Regions from separate parts of the Homo sapiens genome. Here all the other regions are reported to be linked to region 3. The links are microRNA targets in miRTarBase. Many come from high-throughput screens and were not tested one by one. Region 3 holds a microRNA gene; each other region holds the end of a gene's coding sequence. Distances are from middle to middle.
Evidence for each region. The annotated mature microRNA hsa-miR-2355-5p reads AUCCCCAGAUACAAUGGACAA and lies in region 3 at 2,560-2,580, opposite strand. An mRNA with a match to its seed (bases 2 to 7 or 8) in the 3' UTR can be bound and repressed. Matches are read on the target gene's strand: a 7mer-m8 pairs with bases 2 to 8, a 7mer-A1 pairs with bases 2 to 7 and ends in A, and an 8mer does both.

Region 1 (4,078 bases), not on the chromosome of region 3:
TGAGAAGCCGTATGAATGTAAAGAATGTGGGAAAGCCTTTAGAGTTAGAGGACAACTTAATCTCCATCAAAGGATTCACACGGGTGAGAAACCCTATGAATGTAAAGAATGTGGGAAGGCCTTTAGGCAGTATGCACACCTTACTCGACATCAGAGACTGAACATTGCTGAGAAGTGCTATGAGTGTAAGGAATGTGGTCAGGCCTTTCTGTGTAGTACAGGCCTTCGACTACATCACAAACTTCATACTGGAGAAAAACCCTATGAATGTAAGGAGTGTGGAAAGGCCTTTAGAGTGCGGCAGCAACTTACTCTCCATCAGAGAATTCACACTGGTGAGAAGCCTTATGATTGTAAGGAATGTGGGAAGACTTTCAGTCGTGGCTATCATCTAACTCTCCATCAGAGAATACATACTGGTGAAAAGCCCTATGAATGTAAGGAATGTCAGAAGTTCTTTCGTCGTTACTCAGAACTTATTTCACATCAGGGTATTCACATTGGAGAGAAACCTTATGAATGTAAGGAATGTGGGAAGGCATTTAGGCTGTTCTCACAGCTTACTCAACATCAGAGTATTCATTTTGGTGAGAAACCCTTTAAGTGTAAGGAATGTGAGAAGACTTTTAGACTGCTTTCACAACTTACCCAACATCAAAGTATTCATACTGGTGAAAAGCCCTATGACTGTAAGGAATGTGGAAAGGCCTTTAGACTTCATTCATCACTGATTCAACATCAGAGAATTCATTCTGGTGAGAAACCATACAAATGTAAGGAATGTAAAAAGGCATTTAGACAACATTCACATCTTACTTACCATCAGCGAATTCATAATGTAACTTAATAATTATTAGAACTCTTCCTTTGCGAATTTTATGTTGAGCATAGGAAGTACATTCTAGAGGAAAGGTTTTTGAACGTGGGAATCCCTTTTGCTTCATGCTCACAACTAAGCATAGGAAGTTTTATTTAAAGGAAAGAATATGTTAATGAACATATAGAAGCCTTTCATCACCTTTGAAACCATGTTAAACTTTAGGAAATTCATCCTAGAAAAGAACTTTATTACAGGACTGAATGTGGAAAAGCTTTTGATCTTACCTATTATTATCTCCATATTCTTCCATCTGTGTATATACACACGAAGGTTGCTAGGGAACCACTTCATTCTGAAAATGTGTAAATGAAAGGAAAGTCATTTAGTCTGCATTTCCTGTAGGAACTGTATTTCAGGGCAACCAGAAGTTAAGGAGGTAAAGTTCTTCTTTATTAGAAAATTCCAGGCTAATGAATGCAGAAAGAATAATAGAAAATTATATTAGAAAAACTATTGTGTAACACATAATGAAATAATGGATCTAGGCATGATTCTCTGTACAGGTTGACACCATTCAGTGAAGGTTGTGAACTTTATAGTGAATAGATGAGACTGACAACGTCTGAACCCACTCATCATCTCAACTTCACAAAAAGCAAGAGAGTAAAAATTACGTGCCTCCTAATGTGCTACAGTAAGATATACACATCTTGCCAAAAATATTGAACCTGAATTTAAGCCTCAAGAGCCAACTCCCAGTTTAGAGAAAATTCAAGGAATGGAAGAGTAAATTACATGACACAAAAAGGAGCAATTAAATCTAAAATAAGGGTAATTCTACAAGAGGAATCACCTGGTTTCCCAACCAATAAAATGGCATTTTAAGAAATAAGGTGGAACTCCTAGGTATTGACAGACTTGAGACATCAGTCAAATGCAATGAAACAGTGGTTTTTACTTAGATCATGAGTTGAACAAACATGTAAAAGAAGAGATACTTAACAATAATTGGGAGAATGGAATATTGACAATATTAGATAATATTAAGAAACTTTGTTATGTGTGATAATAGCATTGTGGTTATGTAAAAGTGTATTTGTTAGAGATAATTTCTGAAGTCTATACACAGGAGATGATATATCTGGAATGTCCTTTTGTTCATACAAAAGAAAAATGAGGATGAATAACAAGTTTGGCAAAATGATGGTAACCTAAGTCTTGGATACATGGTTTTTATTTGTTTTGTTTTTGCTATTCTACTTTTGTGTATTTAAAATTTTCCATGATGTTCTTTTAAAGATCAAATTATCCATGAAATTATAGCCAGTTTAAAATGAATTATTTTAAAAAAAATTTCTGGCTGGGCCCGGTGGCTCATGCCTGTAATCCCAGCACTTTGGGAGGCCGGTGGGCAGATCATGAGGTCAGGAGTTCGAGACCAGCCTGACCATCATGGTGAAACCTCATCTCCACTAAAAATACAAAAATTAGCCAGGCGTGGTCACATGCGCCTGTAATCCCAGCTACTCGGGCAGCTGAGACAGGAGAATCACTTGAACCCAGGAGGCAGAGGTTGCAGTGAGCCGAGATCACGCCATTGCACTCCAGCCTGGGCAACAAGAGCAAAACTCTATCTCAAAGAAAAAAAGAAAATTTCTACATATTAAAACTTGTGGATGTTGCCAAAGCTCTACACATTGGGATTGGAATATTAATTACACTATAATGACGATAATGTATTCAGGAAGTTAAAATGTAGGTCCACATTTTATTTAGTTGACCTCTCTATCTCTATATTATAGTACCCATGGTATGCACCTTTTTTTTTTTTTTTTTTGAGACGGAGTCTCGCTCTTTCGCCCAGGCTGGCGTGCAGTGGCACAGTCTCGGCTCACTGCAAGCTCTGCCTCCCGGGTTCAAGCCATTCTCCTCCCTCAGACTTCCGAGTGGCTGGGATTACAGGCGCCCGCCACCACACCAGGTTGATTTTTGTATTTTTAGTAGAGATGGGGTTTCACCATGTTGGCCAAGCTGGTCTCAACTCCTGACCTCAGGTGATCCACCTGCCTTGGCCTCCCAAGGTGCTGGGATTACAGGCGTGAGCCACCATGCCCGACTCTCACTTCATATGTTTAAAGAATGAGTAAAAGAAAGCAATTACTACTGCTAAATGTGGGAAATAATGGACTAGACCTGTACTAATATATGGTAGTCACTAGCAACCTGTTGAGCACTTGAAATTGAGTTATTGAGCACTGAAATGTGGCTAGTCCAAATTCAAATGGTGTTTTTTTGTAAAACACAAGATTCTGAAGACTTAGTTATTTTAAAAAAGTTAAGTATCTCAATTTTTCATATTGAGTACATATTGAAATAATATTTTAGATATATTGGTTCAAATAAAATACATTAAAATGAATAACACTTTTTTGTTTTTAAAATTGTTATAGGAAAATTTATATATGTAGCTCACGTATTTCTATTGTCAGCGCTGGCATAAACAATAAAAAGTAGACTTGGTTTTTTTGTGTGTGTTTCTTTAAAAGATACCAATATAGTCAAGACCTTTGCAGTTTTGATCACAGAAATATGAAAGATTACACAGCTACAGCTATATGAATGATAAAAGTGACAGCTATGGATTTTTAAAGTTATAAGTTGCTATACTACATATATGTAATGTGTGTGTGTATAGTGTGTAGGTATATATATTTATATTTATACACACACTATACATGTATTTTAAAATATTGAAAATCCAGAATTATTTTATGGTAAAAATTACTAAAATTGACTTCACATGCTGAATGAAGAGAGCCTGAGTAGACCAACAAACAAATGAAAAATTAAGACGGTTAGAAGATACGCTTTCTAAAAGAATACATTTAGAATCTAACTTTAAAAAAAAAAAATCCTACTCTCCTGAGCCAGAGTGGTCTCAGAGAGACTCCGAGAACCTAATTTTTTACAAGTAAAATCTTTGAAGAATTGGTAATTGCTAAATTTTTCCAACATACTATTCTACAAGACTAACCTAAAACTGATTATAAGAACTAGGTGAGGAGGGCTGGCAAAACGAAAATCTAGACATTTTCCGTATGAAGAGAAATCTGGTAATTCTAATTTCTATGGGAAATTATATCCAACAGTTTAGAATAGAAAATCATTTATGTGGAATAACTTGGACCAGATCCATCCAGCTTTAATTATATATTTAGATTCTAGGCATTCTACCTTCAGAACATCATAATGATAGTA
Region 2 (4,078 bases), not on the chromosome of region 3:
CCATGGCTACTACCGGGGCTCCGACTACGACGAGGCCGATGGCCCGGGCAGCGGGGGCGGCGAGGAGGCCATGGCCGGGGCCTACGACGCGCCACCCCCCGTACGACACGCGTCCTCGGGCGCCACCGGGCGCTCGCCCAGGACTCCCCGGGCCTCGGGCCCGGCCTGCGCCTCGCCTTCTCGGCACGGCCGGCGACTCCCCAACGGCTACTACCCGGCGCACGGACTGGCCAGGCCCCGCGGGCCGGGCTCCAGGAAGGGCCTGCACGAACCCTACAGCGAGAGTGACGATGATTGGTGCTAAGCCCGGGCGAGGTGGCGCCCGCCCGGCCCCCCACGCACCCCACGCACACACCCCACCCGAGGAGCCGCGCAGAGGCCGCGGGGGCCCAGCACAGAGGGCCCGGGAGAGGGCCAGCCGGGAGACCCCAGACTCTGGAGAGGCCAGGGCTGGGCCACAAGGGTGTCCCGCAGAGACCCTCGGCCAAAAGAGACCCTCCTGGGCAGCCACGGCGCCCCCCAACCAGCCCCGATCCCCCCACCCACGACAGGGGCTCTCGGGTGGGAGGCAGGGAGCAGACAAACCACACAGCCAAGGGATTTGAATTAACTCAGCCATTTTTGGAGAACTTTGGGGAACATGAAAAAAAAAAAAAAAAAAAAAAAAAAAAACATTTTTAAAAGAAAAAACGGGGAGAAAAAAATAGCTTCTATTGATGAGTTTTATCATCTCAATTGAATCTTTCCTTTCCCTGATGAAGACAGCTGGTGGCCGAGTGCGGCAAAGAAGCCAGAAGGAACCAGAATCCCAGTGCCCTACACCCACCACCAGACACACTCACACCCACACACGTTCTCAGACACACACAAGAGTGCTTGCCGGTTATACCAAACCCTACTATTACTGCCTGCAGAAATCAATTTAAAAAAATAATAATAACAATAAACAATTTTAAAAAGGACAAAAAAATTAATGATTGAGAAAAGAGGCATTTTTTTCTGACATTTGGTCCTGCTTGAAACAACAAAAGAAGAAGAAAAACCCACCATCACCACCGATTCCTTTGCTTCTTTTTTCCTTTTTTCCTACCTTGTTTGAAAACCGTGGGCTTGGGACTGTGAATTATTGCATGACATTCAAAAAGAAAAAAAAAATAAAAAAAAGTTGAATCAAAGGGCTTTTGGATAGGAGTGGTCTTTGTCCCTTGGCTAGGTGCTGCCTGGGTGGGTCTCTCTTGGGGAATCATACAAAGAGGCACTTCTTTGTTAGCTCCTAGAAGCACTGTTTGAAAGCGACAAGGAGGCCGGGCATCATGCACGCCTGTAATCCCAGCACTTTGGGAGGCTAAGGCAGATGGATCACTTGAGGTCAGGAGTTCGAGACCAGCCCGACCAACATGGCAAAACCTCATCTCTACTAAAAATACAAAAAAAATTAGCCATGCGTGGTTGCACAAACTGTAATCCCAGCTACTCCGGAGGCTGAGGCATGAGAATCACCTGAGCCTGAGAGGCGGAGGTTAGCAGTGAGCCAAGATCCCACCACTGCACTCCAGCCTGAGTGACGGAATGAGACTCTTGTCTCAAAATAAAAAAAAAAAAGGCAGGGCGCGGTGGCTCACGCCTATAATCCCAGCACTTTGGGAGGCCGAGGTGGGTGGATCACATGAGGTCAGGAGTTCACAACCAGCCTGGCCAACATAGTGAAACGCCGTCTTTACTACAAATACAAAAATTAGCCACGCGTGGTGGTGGGTGCCTGTAATCCCAGCTACTCGGGAAGCTGAGGCAGGAGAATTGCTTGAACCCAGGAGGCGGAGGTTGCAGTGAACCAAGATCGTGCCACTGCACTCCAACCTGGGTGACAGAGCAAGACTCCATCTTAGATAATTAATAATAATAATTTGGTCTCGTGGACACCAACCCCCGCCCCCACGAAGTGTTTCAGCCATCCCCAGAGTCCAATACCCCTTTGAGAGCTTCTGTTCTCACAACAGTACCTGACCCATAGCAAGCTACTATTGACTATCACCATTACTACTGTAGCATTAAGGCAAACATTTTGAACAGGTCTTGTTCCAGACAACAGGCCCTGCTTGAGCTTACCTTGGGTAAGAAATCTGCAGACTCCAGATAGCAAGACAGGTGTAAGTCCTTCTAAAATAATGGTAAGCCAAATGTGGTGGCACACACCTGTAGTCCCAGCTGTTCAGGAGGCTGAGGCAGGAGGATCACTTGAGCCCACGAGGTCAAGACCAGCTATGATCACACCTGTGAATAACCATTGCATTCCAGCCTGGGTGACGTAGAAAGATCCCATCTCTAAAAAAATTAAAAGTAAAAATAAATAAATAAAATAATGGCATCTAGGAAAAGATCAGTCCAACGAGAAGTCAAAGTTTTGAGGTCGAGTGCGGTGTCTGACTCTTGTAATCTCAACACTTTGGGAGAATCACTTGAGGCCAGTAGTTCAAGACCAGCCTGGGCAACATAGCAAGACGCTGTCTCTAAAAAAAAAAGTTTGTTTTTTTTAAGGCTGGGTACAGAGGCTCACGCCTGTAATCCCAGCACTTTGGGAGGCCAAGGTGAGCAGATCACCAAGTCAGGAGTTTGAGACCAGCCTGGCCAACATAGTGAAACCCTGTCTCTACTAAAAATAAAAAAATTAGCCAGGTGTGGTGGTGCATGCCTATATTCCCAGATACTTGGCAGGCTGAGGCAGGAAAATCGCTTGAACCTGGGAGGCAGAGGTTGCAGTGAGCTGAGATTGCGTCACTGCACTGCAGCCTGGGCGACAGAGTGAGACTACGTCTCAAAAAAAAAAAAAAAAAAAAATGGAATGGAAGGGAGGGAGGGAGGGGTTTAACTTTCTAACCAGGCAATCTGGCAACCACCACAGGCTTCTAAACAAGCTGCCCATCCATTGCAGAGCTGGCCTCTGGTCCCCCTCCCATGGTGCTGGGGTTGAGTGTGTCCAGGAGCCACTGGAGTAAGCCAGGGTTTGTGCAATTCCCTCTGCTGTCAATGAGGCTGCAGCCATCTGTCCTCCCAGGAATGAAGTTCACTACCGAAGCCCCCCATGAGCCCTGAACTCAAAGGCCAAGTCTATGCCCGAGTGCCAAGAGGTAGACCCAAGGCCTCCACAGTGCACATCATCAGGCTAGAGTGTTAGTTGCCCAGGAGACACAGGGTGGGAAGATCAGGGGATGAGGAAGAGGGGCGGAGCTTGGCCTAGTCCCCAGTCTCACATACTCTCAGGCCATTGCTTGAGCCTCATCACCTGGAAGGTTGGAAGGGCATGATTGTCATAGAAATGCCCTGAGGTGACCGGGCGCGGTGGCTCAAGCCTGTAATCCCAGCACTTTGGGAGGCCGAGGCGGGCAGATCATGAGGTCAGGAGATCAAGACCATCCTGGCTAACACGGTGAAACCCCGTCTCTGCTAAAAATACAAAAAATCAGCCGGGCATAGTGGCAGGCGCCTGTAGTCCCAGCTACTCAGGAGGCTGAGGCAGGAGAATGGCGTGAACCCGGGAGGCAGAGCCTGCAGTGAGCCGAGATCATGCCACTGCACTCCAGCCTGGGCAACAGAGCGAGACTCAAGAAAAAAAAGAAAAAGAAATGCCCTGAGGTGCAAAAGCCCAGGCATTGGCCGGGCGCGGTGTCTCACGCCTGTAACCCCAGCACTTTGGGAGGCCAAGGTGGGTGGACTGCTTGAGCTCAGGAGTTCGAGACCAGCCTGGGCAACATGGCAAGACCTTGTCTCTACTAAAAATAAAAAAAAGCAGAGTGTAGTGGTACATGCCTGTGGTCCCAGCTACTCGAGAGGCTGAGGCAGGAGGATCACTTGAGCCCAGGAGTTCGAGACCAGCCTGGGCAACATGGTGAAACCCCATTCCTACAAAAAATACAAAAATTGGCCAGGCGTGGTGGCTCACGCCTGTAATCCCAGCACTTTGGGAGGCCGAGGTGGGCGGATCACCTGAGGTCGGGAGTTCGAGAACAGCCTGGCCAACATGGAAAAACCCCATCTCTACTAAAAATGCAAAATTAGCCGGGCGTAGTGGCGCATGCCTATA
Region 3 (4,078 bases):
CTGCGGCCGTAAATCACAAATATGAGTGTGTGTAAAATTATATAGCATAGGCCCAGTGTAATAATAAACACATTTATATTTTATAACTGCTGTTTTCTCCACCTTCAAGCCGCATCATTGCCTGGGCCCCAGAGGTTCCTAAGCACTCCCCACCGGCTCCTGTGTGCAGCCGTCTTGCTTTGTGTGCAATTTCCTTCCCCCTCGTCACAGACCGCTATCTGCCAAATGCCAGCCGGCTCTTCTTTGTGCTGCGGTGGGCAAGGAACCATACCAGCTCACAGTTCTCTCTGCAGCAGAACACAGACACAAATGAGCAGGTGACCTCTCAAACCGTGTCAAAACGGACCCTTGACCCAGAGACCTCAAAACTTCAGTGGGTTCGCTGTCTAAATCACCCAACTAAAAAGACCTATGTTTGCACAACGTGATTGTGTTTACACAAAGATTTAACGCCTCAATAGAGCAAAAGCTGTTCAGTTAATTTTAATTATTGCTTTACTCTTCTCGCAACAGATTTTTAAAAAAATGCTTAACGGTGAGCTTGTGGTAATTGATCCCACAAGCTTTGTACCTATGGTCCTTGTAGCTCATACAATGACAGGAGTGGGAAGGATGTATGAAAAGTTTTCCCTGGCTGCAAAGGATTCTTTCTGGCTTTGCTCATTAACTATTCTTTTTGGATAAGGTGCACACCAGGAAAACCACAAAAACAAAAATAAAAACAAAAACAAAAACTTTAACATCTAACCATGAGAGGGGGGAGAAAGATACACAGGTGGATTTGAAAGCATTCTAAATGCTTAGTAGCCAATTATCAGCAAGGAAAAGGCTATTATCAAATTGGGTTGGGGGCCCCGCCAATTCTAACGACTTATTAAGATTATTTCCACGGCAGGTAGAATGAAATAAAAAGGGGAAGTTTGAAAATACAAAGATGTACAGGAACACAGGATCACACACAAAAATATCTACAGACAAACAATCCTCAAAAGAGTGGAGCCCTCAGGGGTAATGTGTGTTATTCCTTCAGCCTTCCAGGAATTTGTCTTTTGGTGTTAATACCTTTTCTTTCCTCAGATCTCTGGATATAATATAAATGCCCATCACTCTGAGGTTCCTGTAGATCCTTTTGGCAGAATGCTAGAAAGCAGCTATTCTTCTTCACTGTGTGCTTTTCTGAATTCAGAGGAGAGACTGCTGCACATAACAAGCAAAATCATAACCTGAGTTTGGGATCTTTGCCAATGAATAGATTTACAATTCCTGTATTTACCAAGGGTTTTTATTCTTACGACTTCTAACCCATTATAAATATCCTCAACTGGGCAAAAACAAAGATAAAATAAAATTATCCTGAATTCCACACTTATCATACAAACAAAAATAAAGGCACATAAATCATTTCTTCAACCTCACCTAGCAAAGCTCTGGTGTAACTGAGAGGAGCATACAACTCATACACCAAGATCCACCCATCCATAGATTCCTTTGAATTCTTTAAGGCATCTCCATTTGGGTTTTCCAGCTTAGTAATAAAGAGGATTGCTAAGATGCATTCTTTCAAGGGGTTCAGAGAAAAGTTTCTATTTGCTATTTCTCATCAAGAATTATCTAAAATATGCAAATGCAGTAGTACTGAGATACCACTTCAAGAATCAATACCTTGCGTTTGTTTGCATCTTCAAAACCAGCTTTCTTTCTTAAAATAGGGGAAAACCAACTAAGATCAAGGATTCTTAAGTTCAACCAAAATAGACAGAATGTAGGAATATACAAGATAATCACTCAGTTTTCTTAGCTATTCTGAATTAGTAGTTATACTGAACAAGTAAAATAACAACAAATAGCCATTTATTTTTCTGAACCATAAACAAAACTGAATTCATTTATATTGTTTCAACTTAGGCCCCCAAAAGAAATAACTGATCTCTAAAGGAAAAACAGAGTAGGGCAGGCTCTGTGATGGTTCAGCAGTGAAATCTTTGAAAAATGATTCTTTCAGCCTCAGTTCCCTTATTTGTACAATGGGTATAATGAGAAGACTTACCTCATCGGTAAGTGAAGGTTAAATGGAAGGATGTATGTGAAACACTTGGCAACTGTAAAGATCAATACAAGTGATATTATTATTGCTTACTTGGGTAATGCACTAACATAGAAGCAGCCATTCCCAGGCTTGGTACCCAATTGCCTTCTTACTCCCAAAGCTGATCTGAGTAGGAACGCCTCAGCTTACCCTTTCTTTAGCACATCTGCTCTGGGAAGCTGACTAAGTAACCCACTGCATCTTCAGGCCATCAAGATAATATTACTAATTCCCTACTGGATCTAAAACTAAGGTCCGATAACAACTGTGATCCAAAACATGGCACTTAGCATGACCCCACAAGGCCAGCTCACTAATGGCAATCTCTTCAAGTGGCAAGGGATAAGCTAATACATGTAAAAGCCACAGATGTCACGTGCTCCCTACAGCCACATTCACATGTATGAGAGGAATAAAGTCAGCAGTATTATCTCCAAACAGCAAGGACAATGCCATACGATTATAATAGCATATTGTCCATTGTATCTGGGGATGACACGTCTGACAATGTTATTTTCTATGCACGTGAATGTAGCTGAAAGGGCCAATGCATAATTCACAGCTCCTGACAAAATGCAGACATAAAGTATGTGTCCATTAGATAAGGCAATTTAAATCCTTTTACCTGAAATAGCACCTTTCTCCCTAAGAACTCAGAAAGCTTCCAGTATGCTCCTCATGGTGCTGGTGCGAACCAGAACAGTGAATAGTAGGAAATGTACTGAGGCAGCAAATGCCAGCGCAATATACAGTTTTACCAATAAAAGTTTTATTTTCCCACGGAAAGCACGTCACTCTTATTTCTTCACTAACAGTTAATCTTCTTTTTGGTAACGAGGAAGCAACTGTTACATTTCAGCAAGGCCACTGTACCCAGGGGGAGAATGACAATACCATATGATGGTGTGGCTCTTCAGTGCGTGGTCAGCTAGGCCCATTTCCTGGCAAAGCACCTCCCTCCCACGTACCAGCCTGGCAGCTGATGTGATCAGACCTCTGCCTCAGCAAAATCTCAAATTATTACAGGTCAGGAGCCTTCTGCAAAAGGGGAGGGCATGAGGCTCAGGAAGAGTCACAATCACGAATCTTCAATCTAGAAGGTTAAGCATTTAGTGGAGGTAGGGAGATTTCTTTCTTACCATAAGGGGAAAAGCGGCACATCATCTAAATCCTGACAGAAATAATAAATAATGCAATATTTCCATTTAGTCAATATTGTTAAAGATCATAAAAGGGAAGAAGGCAAGACCTGGTGGGTAGGTCATCTTAAAAGGATTAGGAAACGTTTTGCAAGTGGATCAGAGCAACCTACAGAGAAGAAGACAGCTAAGGTTGCATTAGGCCAGGGTTTCTCAACCTTGGCACTGTTGACCCTTGGGCCCACATGATCCTTTGCTGTGGAAGTTGTCCTGGGCATTGTAGGATACTTAGCAGTATCCCTGCCCTCTACTTCCCAGATGCCAGTAGCATACCCCCAACCCCACATATGACCATGAAAAATGTCTCCAGACATTGCTAAATGTTCCCTGAGGGAAAAAATCTCCCCTGGTTGAGAACCACCACATTAGGCAACTAATGATCTCACATTTTGGGAGAGTGGCTGGACCAAAAGATTTGCTGTCACACATAATGGCCTCTTCAGACATTGACAGGATGTCCCGATACCCTCCTTGAACCATTGTGTGACTCTCCCATTCCTGCTATGCCCTTCTTAGCCTCAGAAGTTCTTAAAAGTTCAGGGAAGGCCCATCTGTGTGGAATGCTCTCCCAGTGCGCACAGGCCACATAAGGTTTTGAGCACAGGGTGTCCAGCTACAGGCTGAGAGGGGCTGAATCTGGCTCTGCTCCTCAAGCACAGGGAAGCTGCCCCACGCAAAGGGTACTTTTTCTAATTCACACAAAAGCATATTGTGGCTTAGCAGCAGCCCTGCTGGGGGACTAGCAGCCATCAGATTCGTCCTTTCCAATTCTGTCAACCGGTTTGCTTGATGT
Region 4 (4,078 bases), not on the chromosome of region 3:
TCGCTTGAGCCCAGGAGTTCGAGACCAGCCTGGGCAACGCAAGGAGCCCCCATTTCTACAAAAAATTAAAAAATTAGCCAGGCATGATGGCGCGCACACGTTGTCCCAGCTACTCTGGAGGCTGAGGCGGGAGGAGGATCGCTTGAGCCCAGGAGTTCGAGGCTGCAGTAAGCTGTGATTTCGGCACTGCACTCCAGCCTGGACGATAGAGCGAAACCCTGGCTCAAAAAAAGAAAAATTAAAGAAAAAAAAAGAGCATCAGCATCTTCTGTGTTTATAACGATGCAAAAGCTGACACTCCACCTTCACATGAGTAAGTCATTAGTTAAGGAAGTTTTCCCTAGAGGATTCTGGGTGTGAGGCCTGCACTTGTCTTCGTTAAGGCGTCCCCGCCAGCACGCGTCCGATTGTGGTGACCACATCCCCATTGCTACAACGGGGACATCGAAGCACAGAGGGTCGGGGCTTATAGGAGGCTGCCCTGCAAAAGACCCCTGACTCCTGTCTTTTCCTGCAGTGTACCACTGGCTGGAGATGCGGACCAAAATGCGCATCATGGGTTTCAATGCCGCTGCCATCAAGCCGCTGAACGAGGGTGCAGCCGCCGAGCTGGGCGCGGAGCTGCTGGGCGAGGGCATCATCTTCATCACCGCCTGCAGCTGCCTGATGCTGGAGTATTGGCGCCACCAGTTGCAGCAGCGCCGCAAGGAAAAGGAGCGACGTGTTGCCAGGGAGGCGCTGCGGGGCGAGGTGGGCCACTTGGGGCTGGCGCTCGAGGAGTTGCAGGCGCAGGTGCAGGCGACGTCGACGCAGCTCGCCCTGGAGGAGCTGCGCGCTCAGCTGCAGGAGGTGCGAGCCCACCTCTGCCTCCGAGACCCGCCGCCTGCACCCCCAGTTGCGCCGGCGTCCGAGAAATAGGAGGTCTCGGGGCCCTGGTCTTGGAGGTGACTGCTGTCTGGACTGCGAAGTCTCTGTCTTGGCCTATTCTCCGCACTGTCCCATCCTGGACCGGCCCAGCTGACACCACCCAGTCCTTCGGGGGCGCCGGAGAGATCCTGGGCTGGAGCTGATCGAACCTCCCTACTAACCTGCCCAGTGGTACCTTCCACTGGGACTCTCCGCCTCCTGCAGGTGGAACGTTCCAAGAAGGACCCCGCCCTATCCCACCCCGCCCCTGCCAGCGCATTTGTTGAGCACTTTGGAAAGACAGCGTCTTTTATCAGACCCCACCTCCCTACCGCTAGGTAGGCCAGCAGGACGTCCACCTCTTTTGGCAAAACAAAATTCTGCACCCGGATTTAGCCACCTCTCATTCTGTCACCCGCACCCTCACTCACCTGAGTGGACCCTTCCCCTAGGACGCTCATCCTTTGCACCGAACACCACCTACCTCCTCCTCATTGGTACAGACCATTGTAAAGATGCACAAAGTTCCTACGGACTTCCCGACCCGCCCCCTTCCATCTACCTCAGTCTTAGGGGGAAAGGTGGGGGTGAATCCTGGACTGCGTTAGCTCCAATGAGTCACCACCCTGCGGCTCCTGACCTTAATCCATCTTAGTACCTGTCATTGACATCCTCCCCTCCCTGAGTGGATCGATCCAACATAACCCCCCTCTTCTTCCACCTATGGCGCACCCCACTGGCATGGCTATGCTGGGTCTTCCAGGGAAACGCCTCCCAGCCCGGCATTCTGTGGTCTGTTCCAGCAGGACGTGGCCTTTTGGGAGGAAAAACCGGTCTTGACCAGGGCTAGTCCATTCTGGCTTTCAGGCTCAGTCACTTGGTCACCAGTCCCCAGTCCTGGACCTACTGCTACTGTCCTTTTATCCGGTCCTCCCTCGCTGTCCTCTTCAGTTGCCTTTGCTAGGGACCGGCCTGTCCCTTTACTACCTAAGTCATCGTCAGTTCGCCCAACTTCCCTCCAAATCTGCCCCTCACGGTACGCAGGGATCGCCCTTCCTTCCTGCCTTTGGACTGGTCCAGGTCCTCCTCCGCCCTCCTTCACGCAAAGGCCTCCTCCAGGGGGACTACCTGTCCCTCAGCCCAGAGGTCCCCCTGTCCAAGCGGGGTATTCCACCAGGCCATATGACCTACCCACCCGACAACTGAAGGGGGCGTGGATGAGCTCTGTGACTCTGAATGCTACTTTATAAATCGACTGTCAGCGTTTTCTAATTAAAGGAGCTCTGGGGTAAAGATCTTAAGAACGTGTCTGAGAACCATAATGTGCGTCTGCAAAATGTCATTGAAATTAGGAAAGAAGGCCGGACACAGTGGCTCACGCCTGTAATTCCAGCACTTTAAGAGGCCAAAGCAGGAGGACTGCTGGAGGCCAGGAGTTAGAGACCAACCTAGGCAACACAGCAAGACCGCATCTCTACGAAAAATGAAAATATTAGCTAGGCGTCATACCAAACGCCTGTAGTTCCAGCTACTTGGGAGGCTGAGGCAGGAGGATCCCTTGAGCCCAGGAGTTCAAGGCTGCAGTGAGCTGTGATCCTGCCACTACACTCCAGACTGGGTGAAAGAGCAAGACTCCAACTCATTAAAAAAAAAAAAAAAAAAAAAGAGGAAAGAAGCTGGGAGAGTGGTAGAGTGGGGGCAGAGAATCATCTTATGAGCCCTTTCCCAAATCAGAAACTGAGGCCTGAGGTAAGCAAATGGACTTGCCCAAGGCTACACAAAGTGAGGCTGCTTCTGGCCTCCCCTAGGGTGGTGAAGGGCAGGGTGGGATGGGGAGGAAGTGGCCTCCTAAGGGGCATGGGGAGGGAGGCTGGAGGGGGCAGAGATCATCCTGGCTGCGGGCCTGAGGATGAGTGAGCAGGCGCAATATGCAGGGTGGGAAGGAAGATGAAGGGAAGGTGGATTCCTGGGAGGAGGCAGGGGTTCTCAGCAGAGGACCAAATCTTCCTGGAGGGGCACCGGGGGCCGAGCACACCTCCATCCCCATCAGAACAGGCCTTCAAATCACTCCAGAGATCTTAGCATTTATAAAAACTGGCAGATTTATTCTGCAGGGGCCCATTTTCAAGAAGCTAAAGGTGAAGGTGGGAGGGGAGAAGTTTCCTCCCCTTCTCCTTTCTCCCTCATCTTATTTCCTCCAAGGGGTAAAAAAAATGGCCTGGACCCCAAAACCTACCCAAATAAAAAATCAAAAAACTGAGGTTCCAAAAAGTTACAGCATCTTATTTCCTCATAGAAAAGGGGAAGGAGCCAGAGGGAAGGGGAGTCCCTGGGGTGGGGGGATATCTCACCCCCAGCCCGGTGAGACATCCCCTCCCCTTAAATAGCTGCCCCAAATGGGGCAAGCCCAGGGCTATAGCATTTAAAAACTCCCACATCCCATTTTATCAAAACCAAAGAGAAAAAAAAATTTCCCTTTTCCCCCAAAACCCAAATATATATATATTTTTTTTTCTTAAAAAAACCAAAACTTTGAAGGCATTAAGCGTTAAAGTGAATCTAGAACAAGGGAATGTGAAATTCCCTCCTTCCTTCCCCCTTCCTGTGGGGTTCATTGGTGCATCCCCAGCAGAGGGACCGGCCCCAAGGGGATGGCAGAGGGGAAGGACCAAAGGGAGAAAAGGGCGGGGGCCTCCCCAGCCAATCAGCAGCCAGTGTGGGTGTGAGCAGGGAAGCCACACCCCCTTGGAGTTTTCCAAGTGGGATGGGGAGTGGGAACGATGCATTCCTGTGTAGTCTTCAGCCAATTCCAAGTCAAGTAGAGGCAGGGAAAGCAGGGTGACAGGCCGGGTGTGCGGAAAGGAGAAGCGGGTCTTCTGGGTCCCTGTGGTCAGGGAGAACCCCGCTTCCTCAGCTCCTGGACGAAGGCTGGAAGGAAACAAGGAGCAGAGGTCAGGGGCAGAGTCTCTGCCTCCTCCCTTCCAAAACAGGGCTCTTGCCCAGGGACATGATGCCTCCAAAATAAGTAAATGTTTAAGAACAAAACCAAAGCAAACCACCTCACCTTCAATGATTTCCTCTTTCACTTTCTGCAATTCCTTCTTCACCTCTTCCAGAAGCTCCTAAAATTAATGGGGTAAAACTAATCAGGAGGGGGTACCGGGACTTGCAG
Region 5 (4,000 bases), not on the chromosome of region 3:
ATTCTTAAGTCCCAAGTTAATAATATTTAACTTCCAAATGGTGCCTAAATGCATTTCTGAGCCTCATGATCAAGTGGGATAAACTTTAATAAATTGGATTATCTTGAGAAACTTCAGAAAATAAATTCGACACGAAATGTATGAAGGCCGTAAACAATCCACACACTCCTGCCCCCCGAACTGACAGGCAAAGGAGAAACGGGCGACCCAGCCCAGCCGAGTAGGCAGCTGTCCCTTTTCCAAACCCAGAAAGTAAGTGGTATGAAAGGAGAGGGTAGCTCTGGACTGAAACATTCAGGGCAAGGCCTCCTGGCATCCTCTACCCCACACCACAAAGGCCTCAGAAATAAGGCCCCAAGGTCCGTAGGCAGGCCCCGGCTGCGGGTGCAGTCCAAGAGCCCCCGCCCCGGGGACTCGCTGACTCTGGCTTTCTCAGGACAGTCTGTTCCTATATCCCTACCCCCAAAACCAAGCAAAGGAGCAAGAACATCGCCCCTAAAAACCCGCGAGGGGAAGGGCCAAAGCCGCAGGGCTTCAGACTGGCCGCTCCCGGGCCCGCCAGATCCAGGAGGGATGCCCAAGGAGGGCGGTTTCCTCTCTCGGGGCGAACTCGGCCCCAGGCCCCAAGTAGCCGGTACTGGCCCCCGCCCTCTCGGGTACTACCTAACCGAGGAGGGGTGGCCAGGCCCACCTCGGAGCTCACCTTCCAGTTCCGGGAAGCCGGCCGGCCGTCAGTCGGTCCCGAATTCCGTCCACACACAGCGTCTTCCGGCTCCCGCCGGAAGCAGCTCGAGCGCGGGACAGGAAGTTTGGCTGACCCCCCACGCACACACCCACTCGCTCGCCTCAGTGTCGTGTGGCTGCCGCACTGCTCGGGACCCAGACGTCAAGGGTGCTGGCGGGGCCTCCCCAGGCCCGCGACGCAGGGCTCCGCCCCGGACAGGAGGAGCCGCAGCCGCCCCGCTCCCACTCACTCACTCACTCTCGGCCTTCGGGACTCCTATGTCCGCGAAGCCCGAAAAAACAGGTCAGCTAATTCGTTGACGTCACTGCCACCCCGCAGTAGCGGAGGGAGTAGTTTTTCCCATCAGCGGAGGCGTTGCAATGGAGGCAAACGCGAAAGAAAAGATCACTGCTTAAACATTTATCAAAGGTCTCCATGGAGAGGACCTTCGAAGTTTCACCGCCCGAGAAAGGAACTTGCAGAATCAAGTTTTGCATTATATACGGGACGGGGTATGCAGTGAGTCTGGGTTCCGTGTTGTAATTAGGATGTAAAGAGCTCTTGGATGTCCCGACTGCGGGCTTGAACACTTGACTTCCAAGCTGGATGCCACCTTGTTAAAGCTTTGTGAGTTTGACTGACTTCTTGAAATTACTTATTTTAAAATATTTGCGTGCGGAAGAATGAGAGACTCAACCGTGGGAATTAAAGGAGTTCTCTTTAAAAAGGCATTTTCAAGGTTAAAGATAAGCCTTGATGACAGGTTTGGGTACACAAATTACTAATGGTGATTTAAAATAAAGGAGAAACATTTCAGAGGAAGATAATTCCACTTTAGAAAAGCAGAGTAGGCCGGACTCCGTGGCTCACGCCTTTAATCCCAGCACTTTGGGAGGCTAAGGTGGGCGGATCACGAGGTCAGGAGATCGAGACCATCCTGGGTAACGCCGTGAAAACCCGTCTCTACTAAAAACACAAAAATTAGCCGGGCGTGGTGGCACGCGCCTGTAATCCTAGCTACTCGGGAGGCTGAGGCAGGAGAATCGCTTGAACCCGGGAGGCGGAGGTTGCAGTGAGCCGAGATCGTGCCGCTGCACGCCGGGCGACTGAGCAAGACTCCATCTCAAAAAAGAAAAGAAAAGAAAAAAGCAGAGTATAAGATGCAATCCAGAGTTGAGGATATTTACTTGGAGGTAAAGGTCCAGTGCTCAAGAAAGAGGTCAGAAATACAGATGGAGATTTGGGAGTTAGCAACATACAGAGAAAAGTGAAACCCCCTCAGGCGATGAAATGGTCCAGGAAAAGTAACAAAAAAGGGCCACTCACGAAAACTGGGGAGGCTGATTACCAACACAGTTTGAATCTACTTATTACAAATGTTGCATACAAAAGTATATTGGCAGTGTGTAGACAATCATAAGCCAAAACATTCAGAAACAATAATCTTCAGTTTTACTGTTCTGCGAGGGTTGAGTACAATTAATAAAACAAACTTTTGAGGTACATCAGTAGTTCCTGAACATTCATGTTTACAAACATTTGTTAATTTGCCCAGTCCTGTCATTTTCTGAAACTGTCTTTGTTGTCAATCTGTTTTTGTTTTTTGAGATGGAATTTCACTCTTGTCGCCCAGGCTGGAGTGCAATGGTGCAAGCTCAGCTCACGGCAACCTCCCCCTCCCAGGTTCAAATGATTCTCCAGCCTCAGCCTCCTGAGTAGCTGGGATTACAGGCGTGTGCCACCACGCCCAGCTAATTTTTGTATTTTTAGAGAGATGGGGTTTCACCGTGTTGGCCAGGCTGGTCTTGAACTCCTGACCTCAAGTGATCTGCCCGCCTCTGCCTCCCAAAGTGCTAGGATTACAGGCTTGAGACATCAGGCCCGGCTGTCAATCTTTTTAATCACCTACAAGTGATGTTTACATCTGTTTGCCCTCTCAATCTTTACAACTTGACAGTATGTGCCTGCTAACCTAAAATAAACATATGCTTTTCTCAATATATATGGAGTTTTTAGGCTATACAGTAAATTATTTGGCAAATACAAAGAGATGATCCTCTGGAGTAAATCTTGTCAACTTAACCAACCTAAGTTATTTATCTTCCCATACTAATCCCAACCCAAAACCGCTGGTCTCCTATCCCAAAAACTGTTACACAAGCTCCGAAACCCCCAATCCTGCCCCCAGTCCCTATGTACACATCATACCATTAAGTCTCTTTTCAGTCTACAATGTGAAAAAAAGGCCATCTCAATTCTATTTTTACACCAAGTTTCAGTTTAAGAATCATGTAAAACATTTCCAGTTCAACAAATCTTTACTCAGTGCCTCTCAAGCATTCTATTTTATTTTAAGCATTCTATTTTAAATTAATAAAAGTTATTAATATTAATTTTAAAAAACCTATTGTGTATGATTCATTAATGGTTGTATCAGATCATGTAAAACGTTTCCAGTTTAACAAATCTTTACAAAGTGCCTCTCAAGCGTTCTATTTTAAATTAATAAAAGTAATTACTAAAAGTTATTAATTTTTAAAAACCTATTGTGTATGATCCATTAATGATTGTATCAAATACCCTATGCAACTAAAAATAACACCTATGATCACATTTAAATCAAGAGCTATGTATAGTCTAAGGATTTTTTAACATATCTTTGAAAATATGCAAAATGGAAAAGAAATCTATGATTGCCTTGATGACATTTACAGCAATTACAAAGAGATTTCTTCTGAAATGCAAACTATCTGCTTTCCAATGTTACCTCCTGTCATCATGGACTGGAATGCAGCTGGAAAAAGAGAAAGTAGGTTATCTGAAAAGATAAATGTCACTATCATACTTGTTTCCAAAAGGTACAACATATAAAATTATGTTAAATAACTTTTTCAATGATTTTGAATATTAAGCATAGAAGAAAATGGTCATGAAAAGAAATCTCAAGTAAAAAGTTACACACAAACTAACCCAATTAACATCTTAAAAAAATGTTTTGCCCATACTGGAAAGATTTAATTGGTATCTAACTGGTATGCACATCAATGTTCATTGTTTACAGTATCTGAAGACTAGAGGCAAAAAAAAATGGGAATAAAATGTGAGTGAAGGCCGGGCATGGGGCCTCACGACTGTAATCCCAGCACTTTGGGAGGCCAAGGTGGGTGGATCACTTGAAGTCAGGAGTTTAAGACCAGCCTGACCAACATGGTGAAACCCCATCTCTACTAAAAATACAAAAATCAGCTGGGAGTGGTGGTGTGTGCCTGTAGTCCC
Region 6 (4,078 bases), 110 Mb from region 3:
ATTATCACCAAAACACAGGTAGAAAATGACACAGTAGCCCAATCGTCTACTTTTGTGATTGCTAAGAATTTGTGTAATTATACCTTCAGAAGTTTGTTTAGAATTTACATGATTTAAAAAAAATTACGTGTGAGAGTAATTATTTTAAAATGCACATTTTAGGCTTGAAGTAGAACATGTGATGATGAGAAAAATTATTAAAAAACAGGATGACCAAATTGAGCGGCTTGAGAAAATCCTGCAGCATTCAAGTTTGGTAAGCTGATCTCTTAATTTCTGTCATACTGAAAAGGAATTTTATTTTTCCAGTAGGATGGGTTAAATATCCCTTGTCCAAAATGCTTGGGACCAAAAGTAGATTTTTTTCAGATTTTGGAATATTTGTATATACCTAATGAAATATCTTGCGGATGGTACCTGAGTCTAAACATGAAATTCATTTGTGTTTCATATATACCTTATGCACATAGCCTGAAGGTAATTCTCTACAATGTTTTACAGTAATTTTTTGCAGGTAAGAAAGTTTTTACTGTTTTCCCCAGAGCCTGTCACATGAGGTCAGGTGTGGAACGTTGCAGTTGTGGTGTCATGTCCGTGCTCAAAAAGTTTCAGATTGTAGAGCATTTTGGATTTCAGATTTTTAGATTAGGGATGATCAATCTACAGTACAGATGCTCCTTGACTTACAGTGGGTTTACATGATAATGTCTCTTGTTTGACTGAAACATTATAAGTAATATTTGATTTATTTCAGATGCTGCAGGTGTTTGAGAGCTAGATGAAGGTATGTTGCCAAAATTTATGAATTAAATTCAAATCATTGATTTCTGAAATAAACTCTAAGTAGTGAACGGTATTCCCTCTCAATTGCTTGGTTAATAAATGCTACATTAAATATTTTTTCTTACACACATCTAGTGAAAGATGTGAAAACATAAACATTCATAGTGAAGGGTATACTTATGCTTTGTTAATTCATCATGTTTCATAGCTTTAAAAAAATCGCAAGAAATCTGTGTATCCCTTTTTTTCTGGCCCTACACTTTTCTTCTGCCACCCCTATAGACTATCAGCCTGCACACTGAAACTGTTCTCACAAAACAAAGGCATTATCAACTTCTCAAGGTTAAGGTAGTGATTTAAGGCTAACAGACCCCACACTCATGTGATAATAATTAGTTAAGCAATTACAGGTCACAAGCAGTCACTTGACCAGTGACATTTTAAATCTCTAGTCATTGACTTTGTCATTGGTTTACTTTTGCCCCTGGGAAAAGTTGAAAATTCCTTAGCATGGAATCAAAACTCTCACATCAGTGTGGTTCTTGTCAAGTTATTCAGCCTTATCTTTCGCCACTTACCATACTCTACACCTTTGTTCTAGCATCCAGCCAAACTAGACTACATGGAGCTCCACAGTGATCGTCTTCACCTCCAGCTGTTTGCATTTACTTCTTCCCTCTATCCTACATGTGTTTTCCTTCCCCTTCAGATATCAACCTATGAATTGCCTCTACCAAAAAGCCTACAATATTGACACAAACCTGGGCTAGTATCCCTTCTATGTCTTCCAATAAGTGCTGTCTTATGCTTGTCATTGTATGTATGACTCTGTATGGGAATTGCCTGTTTGTTTTTTCAGATTATAGCATACAGTTGTTGAGGGGCGGACCGTATCATCTTTATCTTGTAATTCCAGTGCTTGTCCTAGTACCTTAGCACATGGTTGCTGAATACATGAACGAAGAGTGAGAAACCAGAAGCTCTGATACTTAACTGCCATGATAATGAATTCGGTGTGCAACTATGGGCAAATTATATTTAATAGTAATTGCATATTGTACATATTTTTCATTCTTATTAACACTGATAAGCTTTTCAGCATATACTGACTTTCTCTTAGTTAACTGTGAAATCATTTAGATAAAGAATATAATTCTTTTTCATTCTAACTTCTGAATTTAAATCTGAATCCTCTATAGCAGGGGTCCCCAACTCCCAGGCCACACACAGTTCCATGACCTGTTAGGAAGCAGGCTGCACAGCAGGAGGTGAGTGGCAGGCAAGCGAGTGAAGCTTCATCTGTATTTCCAGCCACTCCCTGTTGCTCACATTATCACCTGAGCTCTGCCTCCTGTCAGATCAGCAAAGCCATTAGATTCTCACAGGAGTGAAAATCCTACTGTGAACTGCTCGTTCAAGGGATCTAGGTCACATGCTCCTTATGAGACTCTAATGCCTGATGATATGTCATTGTCTCCTATCTCTTCACGATGGGACCATCTAGTTACAGAAAAACAAGCTCAGGACTCCCATTGATTCTCCATTATGATGAGTTGTGTAATTATTTCATTATGTATTACAATGTAGTCATAATAGGAATAAAGTGCACAATAGATGTAATACGCTTGAATCACCATCCTGAAACCATCCCCCAAACCCCCATCTGTGGAAAAATTATCTTTCACAAAACTGCTGCCTGGTGCCAAAAAGGCTGGGGACTGCTGCTCTATAGCTTCTGCACTAGAATCTACTAATGAGTAAAATTTAAATCAATAACTAGTTTTAAAAGCATAACAAGAATATGTGCTGTCTGGCTGCAGTGGCTCATGCCTGTATTCTCAGCACTTTGGGAGGCCAGTGCAGGTGGATCACTTGAGGTCAGGAGTTCAAGACCAGCCTGGCCAATATGGTGAAATCCTGTCTCTACTAAAAATACAAAAATTAGCTGGGTGTGGTGGTGCATGCCTGTAGTCTCAGCTACTCGGGAGGCTGAGGTGGGAGAATCACTTGAACCCGGGAGGCAGAGGTTTCAGTGAGCCAAGATCGTGCCACTGCACTCCAGCCTGAGCAACAGAGTGACTCCATCTCAAATGCAAAACAAAACAGAAAGAATACATGCTGACGAAAAAAATCTAAGACAATAAAATTGTATTACTAGGCTGTTAACATGATATTTTGTTTCCCGTTAAATGTGTGACATGCAAAAGTATTTATTAAATGAAAATATTTTTTATCTTTTATGTCTGATGAAAATTTATATCGTGTTTTAAATGATGTTTCTTGGCCTCTTTAACTTTTTATTTTTTTATTATTTTTTTTTTGAGACGGAGTCTGGCTCTGTCACCCAGGCTGCAGTGCAGTGGCGAGATCTTGGCTCACTGCAAGCTCCGCCTTCTGGGTTCACGCGGTTCTCCTGCCTCAACCTCCCGAGTAGCTGCGACTACAGGTGCCCAGCTAGTTTTTTTTTGTATTTTTAGTAGAGATGGAGTTTCTCCCTGTTAGCCAGGATGGTCTCCATCTCCTGACCTTGTGATCTGCCCACCTCGGCCACCCAAAGTGCTGGGATTACAGGTGTGAGCCACTGCACCGAGCCTGAAAATCTTACTACCTAAATAACTTCCCACTCCACTCACACCCACAATCTTTCTATAATCCACATTCTCTCCTGAGACAAGAGCTTGGGAAGTTCCGTCTTGCTGAGGGAACTTTATATTGTTCAGGAATTCTTTAATAAGGTTTTACATAGTTGGGGAAACCAGGGAAAAGCAGGTTTGTCACTGCTTTGCTGAGGAGCAGACTCACGTGCCTTGGAAGAATTTAGTAAACCTTCAATAGATGGCCTAAGATACTAACAGGGGCCATCTCATTAAGCTACACAGTTATTTATAAATGAAAGTATAATCTAGAACTTACATGTCAAAGTCTTCCACTAGAAAGATGGCAATATTTGACTAAAACTGCAAAGTTTGTCCCAGTTGACAAAACTCTAATCAAGCCCCTGCCCTTCTCATTCTGTTTTTCCTTTTAAACTTTTTCTTATATTTTAATTTTTCATTTGACAAATGCATATTTCCTCTTTATACCATGCTTCCAAGTGTCACTCTGATACATACCTTCAATGAGCAGACACAGGATTGTGGAGTTTGTTGTGGACACTCATCCCATGAATAGGGAGACTCCGATAACCTGAACAGACGGCTCTAGAAAAGAAAGGAAACTTTCTTTTCCTTCCATACAGAGCTTCCCCCCATTATTTCAGTGTACACAAACCAACATCAGTTCTTTAACACAAAAA
Region 7 (4,078 bases), not on the chromosome of region 3:
AACCAGAGTTATTTTCTGGAGGAGTATTTAAAATGATGGGGATGTTATTACTTGGGTCGCAATGAACCTGAAAACCCATTTTCTACAGAATATACAGCAGCAGGGAAGCAAGGGGACCAGCAGACCCCTTTTTAAGTACGCATGTGATAAGCAATGAACACGAACTGCCCAGAGCAGTCTCCAACACTGACACGATTCGCTTCCCCACCACGACGCCCTAGCGCTACTGTGCAACGAAGACCTCCCAAGCACTGGTTCCAATGCGGAGACCATGGGCTCCCAGACTCTGGGAACTCCAACACGACTGCGAAACGAACTCCGAGCGAGGACTCCCCGAGAGCTCCCCGCAACACGGACCTCACGCGCTAGCGAACAACAGAAAAAAAAAAGCGCGCTCTCCCTGCCCCTGAAACATTCCCAGAAGCCCACGCAGACCAGACCGATGACCTGTCTCCACTGCTGGAGGCGAGTCAGGGACCCGAAGTCTCTAAACACTCGCCTCTACCCGCCGCCCCGCGAACCCCACACACTGCAGACGCGACACTCGCAAGTTTCGGGGATGGCGGCCGGCGAGGGCCATACTGCGTCTTTCCGGAGACACGGAATACGGCACCAGCCGTCCCTTTATGATGCAATATGTCTGCGCCCAGGGGACGCTTGCTGGGAGCAGCCATTTTCAACCCTACTGCCGTAGAGCAGGCGGAGTCCCTCTTTTCGCGCCTTAAGACAGGTAGGTTCTGACGATGAAAAGCAATTGAAAACGACCCATTTCACCCTTTTTCCAGTCCACGTGAACTGCTAGATCTTGGCTTTGCAACATTAGCCAGGGGCGCTACATAAACTGCTTAGTTTCTCAAAGGCTCAAGCCTGCCCTGATCTGTCTACAGGATGGGTAGAGATGGTCACAGACATTTAGGCACTTTGATCCTAAGAAGAATGGAAAGAAACCATGTGGCGCGGCAGTCTTACAGGAATTTCAAGAGGGAGGGACCTGAGCAACAATCGGAGGGGTTATTACTCCTGAGGATGCATCTGGCTGGAGAAAGCAGCCTTTGAGAACTGCCTAAGAAGTATCTTTACATCTACATCAGATGTAGCCTCAGAGGAAGGAGTCAGTCATAGAATGGATAAAACAACCGCGTGTTAAAGCTTTGGTTATAATTGGTGTGGAGAATGGAGAACACAGTTGATCAGCAGTTGACAAAGTGGGGAACCAACACGAAAACAGGGCTCTCTCACCCTGGAAAAGCCAAAGGCAGAACAAGCCTTTACATCCAGGAAGGTGGGAGCAACTTGAAATCAAAACTCTGAAGGGGAGATGATTCTGTTCAATACTGAAACTCAGCTGATCAATTAACTGATGAATTCTAGCACCAAACCTGCTCCCTATAATTTTATAACCAGCCTCAGAGAACCTTTAAAGGGATTGATCATTCACTCATTTATCCAGCGAATGTTTATAAAATGCCTAATGTGTCAAACACTGTTGTGCGTGCTGGGAATACAACAGTTGGAAATTCAGGCACAAAGACTCTCATTCATGGAGATTACATTCTACTGGCAATTTCAGTGTGTGAGCTAAATTGAGTGGTGCTAACTGTTGACTTGGCTGGTTGACTGAAACTTGGACTCAAAATTTGCCTACACTAAATGAAGTTTAAATGCCAGAAATTTCCTCATATATTATAAAGTACCCAAAGATAAATGGAGTTTGGAATGCTAGAATGAATTTATCATGTAAAATCAAGATTACCCATACCTCAAATATGTATTCCAGTAGCATCTAGAAGACAATCTCTTCACTGACACTGATCTGGTCACAGGAAATAGAGATATACTACTGTAAGATTATTTTATTATACAGTAAGTGATATAATGTCCTTGAAGTTAGAATGATAAGTTCATGATTTTCTTTCAGTCAGTTCAGGCTACTAGAAAAAATACACCATAGACTGACTGACTGCCTTAACAAACATTCATTTCTCACGTTCCAGAGGCTGAGGAGTCTCTAGAACTGGACTCTAAAACACAATCAAGGTGTTGGCAGGTCTAGTGTCCAGTGAGAGTCCATTTCCTGGTTTATGCATGGTCATCTCATTCTGTCTTCACATGGCAAAGAGCAGAGAAAGAGAAAACAAACTCTCTTCTGTGTTGTCTCATAAGACACATAATCTCATCATGAGGGTTCCACTTTCAAGATGTAATTACCTTCCAAAGGTCACACTTCCTAATGCCATCCCTTAGGGATTAGGACTTCAACATGTAAATTTGGAGAGGACATAAATATGCAATCCCTCACAATGATGTATGCTATAAAATCTCAAGGAATCAAATGACAAGGATTTACAGTTAATAAGCCAACAAAGGAGACAATATGTAATATAAACACACTCAGCTACTCTAAGGGAAAGCAGAAAAAGAAGAAAAGGAGAACAAAGAAGACATAGAATAAACAACAAATAGTAAGTTAGTAATTTAAACCTAAAAACATCAATACATTGAACGTAAATGATCTAAATACCCCAGTAAAAAGACAGAGATTGTTAACTGGATAAAAAAGGAAGGCCCAACTGTATGTTGCCCACTAAACACCCACTTTAAATATGAAAGCATAAATAGGTTAAAAGTAAAACCATGATAAATAAAGATATGAAAGATATAACAGGGAAAAACCCATGTCAAATTATTAGAGGTTAAAAATTACAATTTCTGAGAGAAAACATACTTTGGATGGGATTAATGACAGATTAAACACTGTGGAAAAAAGATTAGTGAACTGAAAGACATAGCTATGAGAACTATAAAAAATGAAATAATGAAGGGTAAAATAATAAAAAGCATGAACATCATTTTCATGTACATATGTGTATACACAAAAAGATTTGTGAACTTGAACAAGGCAAGAGATACAATCTAAACTACAAAGAGAACAAAAGCTAACCCCTACCTTGGCCCCCGGAGTAAGAGATATCATTCTGAGGAACACCAAGTGGAAGCCTCTAAAACTGCCCCCCTCCCCAGCCAAACTCTATGATCAAGATAGTAAATGAAAAACAATATTGTGGGAGGGGTAGTGAGGTTTATAAGATATAAAAAAGTAAAATATATTTCATATCTTGTAAACCCTACTATACATATTAGTGCAGGGAGCCAAAGGCCCATGGGACATGACAAACTCAGCATTCCGCTGGAGGCTATATGATCAAACAGCAAACTGTTTATCATGAATGCAGGATGTGGGCAAACTCACACTGCCCTGCCACCATTGCCACAGTTACCATATTAACAGGGCTTTTCCCCTGCACATGTTCACTAGGACTTAAGCTGTGACTTGCTGTGGAAGGATTTTCCACCTTCACTGAATCCCCCCGTTTCTCCCTTGAGTGTATTCTCTTATGTTTAACAAGGCAAGACATATAGAAGTAAGCTTTCTCACACTCATCACAGCCATAGGGTCTCTCTCCCGTGTGAGTTCTGTGATGTACAATGAGCATTGTCTTTGTAAGGAAGGCTTTCCCACAGTCACTGCATTTATAGGGTTTCTCTCCTGAGTGAATTTTCTGATGTCTAATGAGTCCTGACTTCTGTGAACAGGGTTGCCCACATTCAGGACATACAAAGGGAGTCTTTCCTGTATGATATCTCTGATGTGCTACAAGGCAAGACTTCTGGCTGAAGGCCTTGCCACAGTCAATGCATCCATAAGGTTTCTCTCCAGTGTGAGTTCGTTGATGTATGTTGAGATTGCCCTTCTGAATGAAGCCTTTTCCACATTCACTGCATGTATGAGGCTTCTCTCCTGTATGAGTTCGCTGATGTACAACGAGTAGTGATTTTCTGGAGAAAGCTCTCCCACATTCGCTGCATTGATGGGGCTTAATTCCCGTGTGAATCCTTTGATGTTCAGTAAGCTCAGATTTCCTGGGGAAGGCTTTCCCACATTCACTGCACCCGTATGGTTTCTCTCCTTTGTGAGCTCTCTCGTGTTCAGTGAGCCTGTACCTCTTGTAGAAGGCTTTCCCACACAAGCTACACCCGTGGGGTTTCTCTCCTCTGTGAGCTCTCTCGTGTTCAGTGA

Region 1: the mRNA of ZFP30 is a reported target of hsa-miR-2355-5p. The part of its 3' UTR that is shown has no 7-base or 8-base seed match.
Region 2: miRTarBase lists CACNA1A as a target of hsa-miR-2355-5p. Seed matches in the 3' UTR shown: 7mer-A1 at 633-639.
Region 4: the mRNA of VASP is a reported target of hsa-miR-2355-5p. Seed matches in the 3' UTR shown: 7mer-m8 at 3,600-3,606 and 7mer-m8 at 3,529-3,535.
Region 5: miRTarBase lists PTGR2 as a target of hsa-miR-2355-5p. The part of its 3' UTR that is shown has no 7-base or 8-base seed match.
Region 6: miRTarBase lists ANKRD36 as a target of hsa-miR-2355-5p. The part of its 3' UTR that is shown has no 7-base or 8-base seed match.
Region 7: miRTarBase lists ZNF649 as a target of hsa-miR-2355-5p. Seed matches in the 3' UTR shown: 7mer-m8 at 3,015-3,021.

What each region holds. Positions count from the first base shown.
Region 1 is chr19:37,631,750-37,635,827 of GRCh38, reverse strand. It overlaps ZFP30 (ZFP30 zinc finger protein), which reads left to right. Exons shown (of 6, transcript NM_001320669.3): 6 at 1-4,078. The coding sequence ends at 847. Among named protein-coding and RNA genes, the nearest start is that of ZFP30, 22 kb to the left of the region's middle.
Region 2 is chr19:13,203,539-13,207,616 of GRCh38, reverse strand. CACNA1A (calcium voltage-gated channel subunit alpha1 A) reads left to right here. Exons shown (of 47, transcript NM_001127222.2): 47 at 1-1,175. The coding sequence ends at 304. Among named protein-coding and RNA genes, the nearest start is that of IER2, 55 kb to the right of the region's middle.
Region 3 is chr2:207,107,484-207,111,561 of GRCh38, forward strand. MIR2355 (microRNA 2355) reads right to left here and starts at 2,590; the gene lies at 2,504-2,590. The region is part of intron 2 of KLF7 (KLF transcription factor 7); the gene reads right to left.
Region 4 is chr19:45,525,896-45,529,973 of GRCh38, reverse strand. It overlaps VASP (vasodilator stimulated phosphoprotein), which reads right to left. Exons shown (of 13, transcript NM_003370.4): 12 at 3,971-4,028; 13 at 2,991-3,834. The coding sequence ends at 3,797. It also overlaps a transcript of OPA3 not described here. Among named protein-coding and RNA genes, the nearest start is that of VASP, 20 kb to the right of the region's middle.
Region 5 is chr14:73,883,619-73,887,618 of GRCh38, reverse strand. PTGR2 (prostaglandin reductase 2) reads right to left here. Exons shown (of 10, transcript NM_001146154.2): 10 at 1,893-3,518. The coding sequence ends at 3,442. It overlaps ZNF410 (zinc finger protein 410), which reads right to left and starts at 760. Exons shown (of 12, transcript NM_021188.3): 1 at 704-760. RefSeq lists enhancers at 701-770, 2,402-2,511 and a silencer at 821-1,100.
Region 6 is chr2:97,249,390-97,253,467 of GRCh38, forward strand. It overlaps ANKRD36 (ankyrin repeat domain 36), which reads left to right. Exons shown (of 76, transcript NM_001354587.1): 74 at 163-256; 75 at 755-784. The coding sequence ends at 778. Among named protein-coding and RNA genes, the nearest start is that of ANKRD36, 140 kb to the left of the region's middle.
Region 7 is chr19:51,887,397-51,891,474 of GRCh38, forward strand. ZNF649 (zinc finger protein 649) reads right to left here. Exons shown (of 5, transcript NM_023074.4): 5 at 1,839-4,078. The coding sequence ends at 3,222. It overlaps ZNF577 (zinc finger protein 577), which reads right to left and starts at 555. Exons shown (of 6, transcript NM_001370449.1): 1 at 1-555. ZNF649-AS1 (ZNF649 antisense RNA 1) reads left to right here and starts at 629. Exons shown (of 3, transcript NR_110733.1): 1 at 629-730. RefSeq lists an enhancer at 1-679.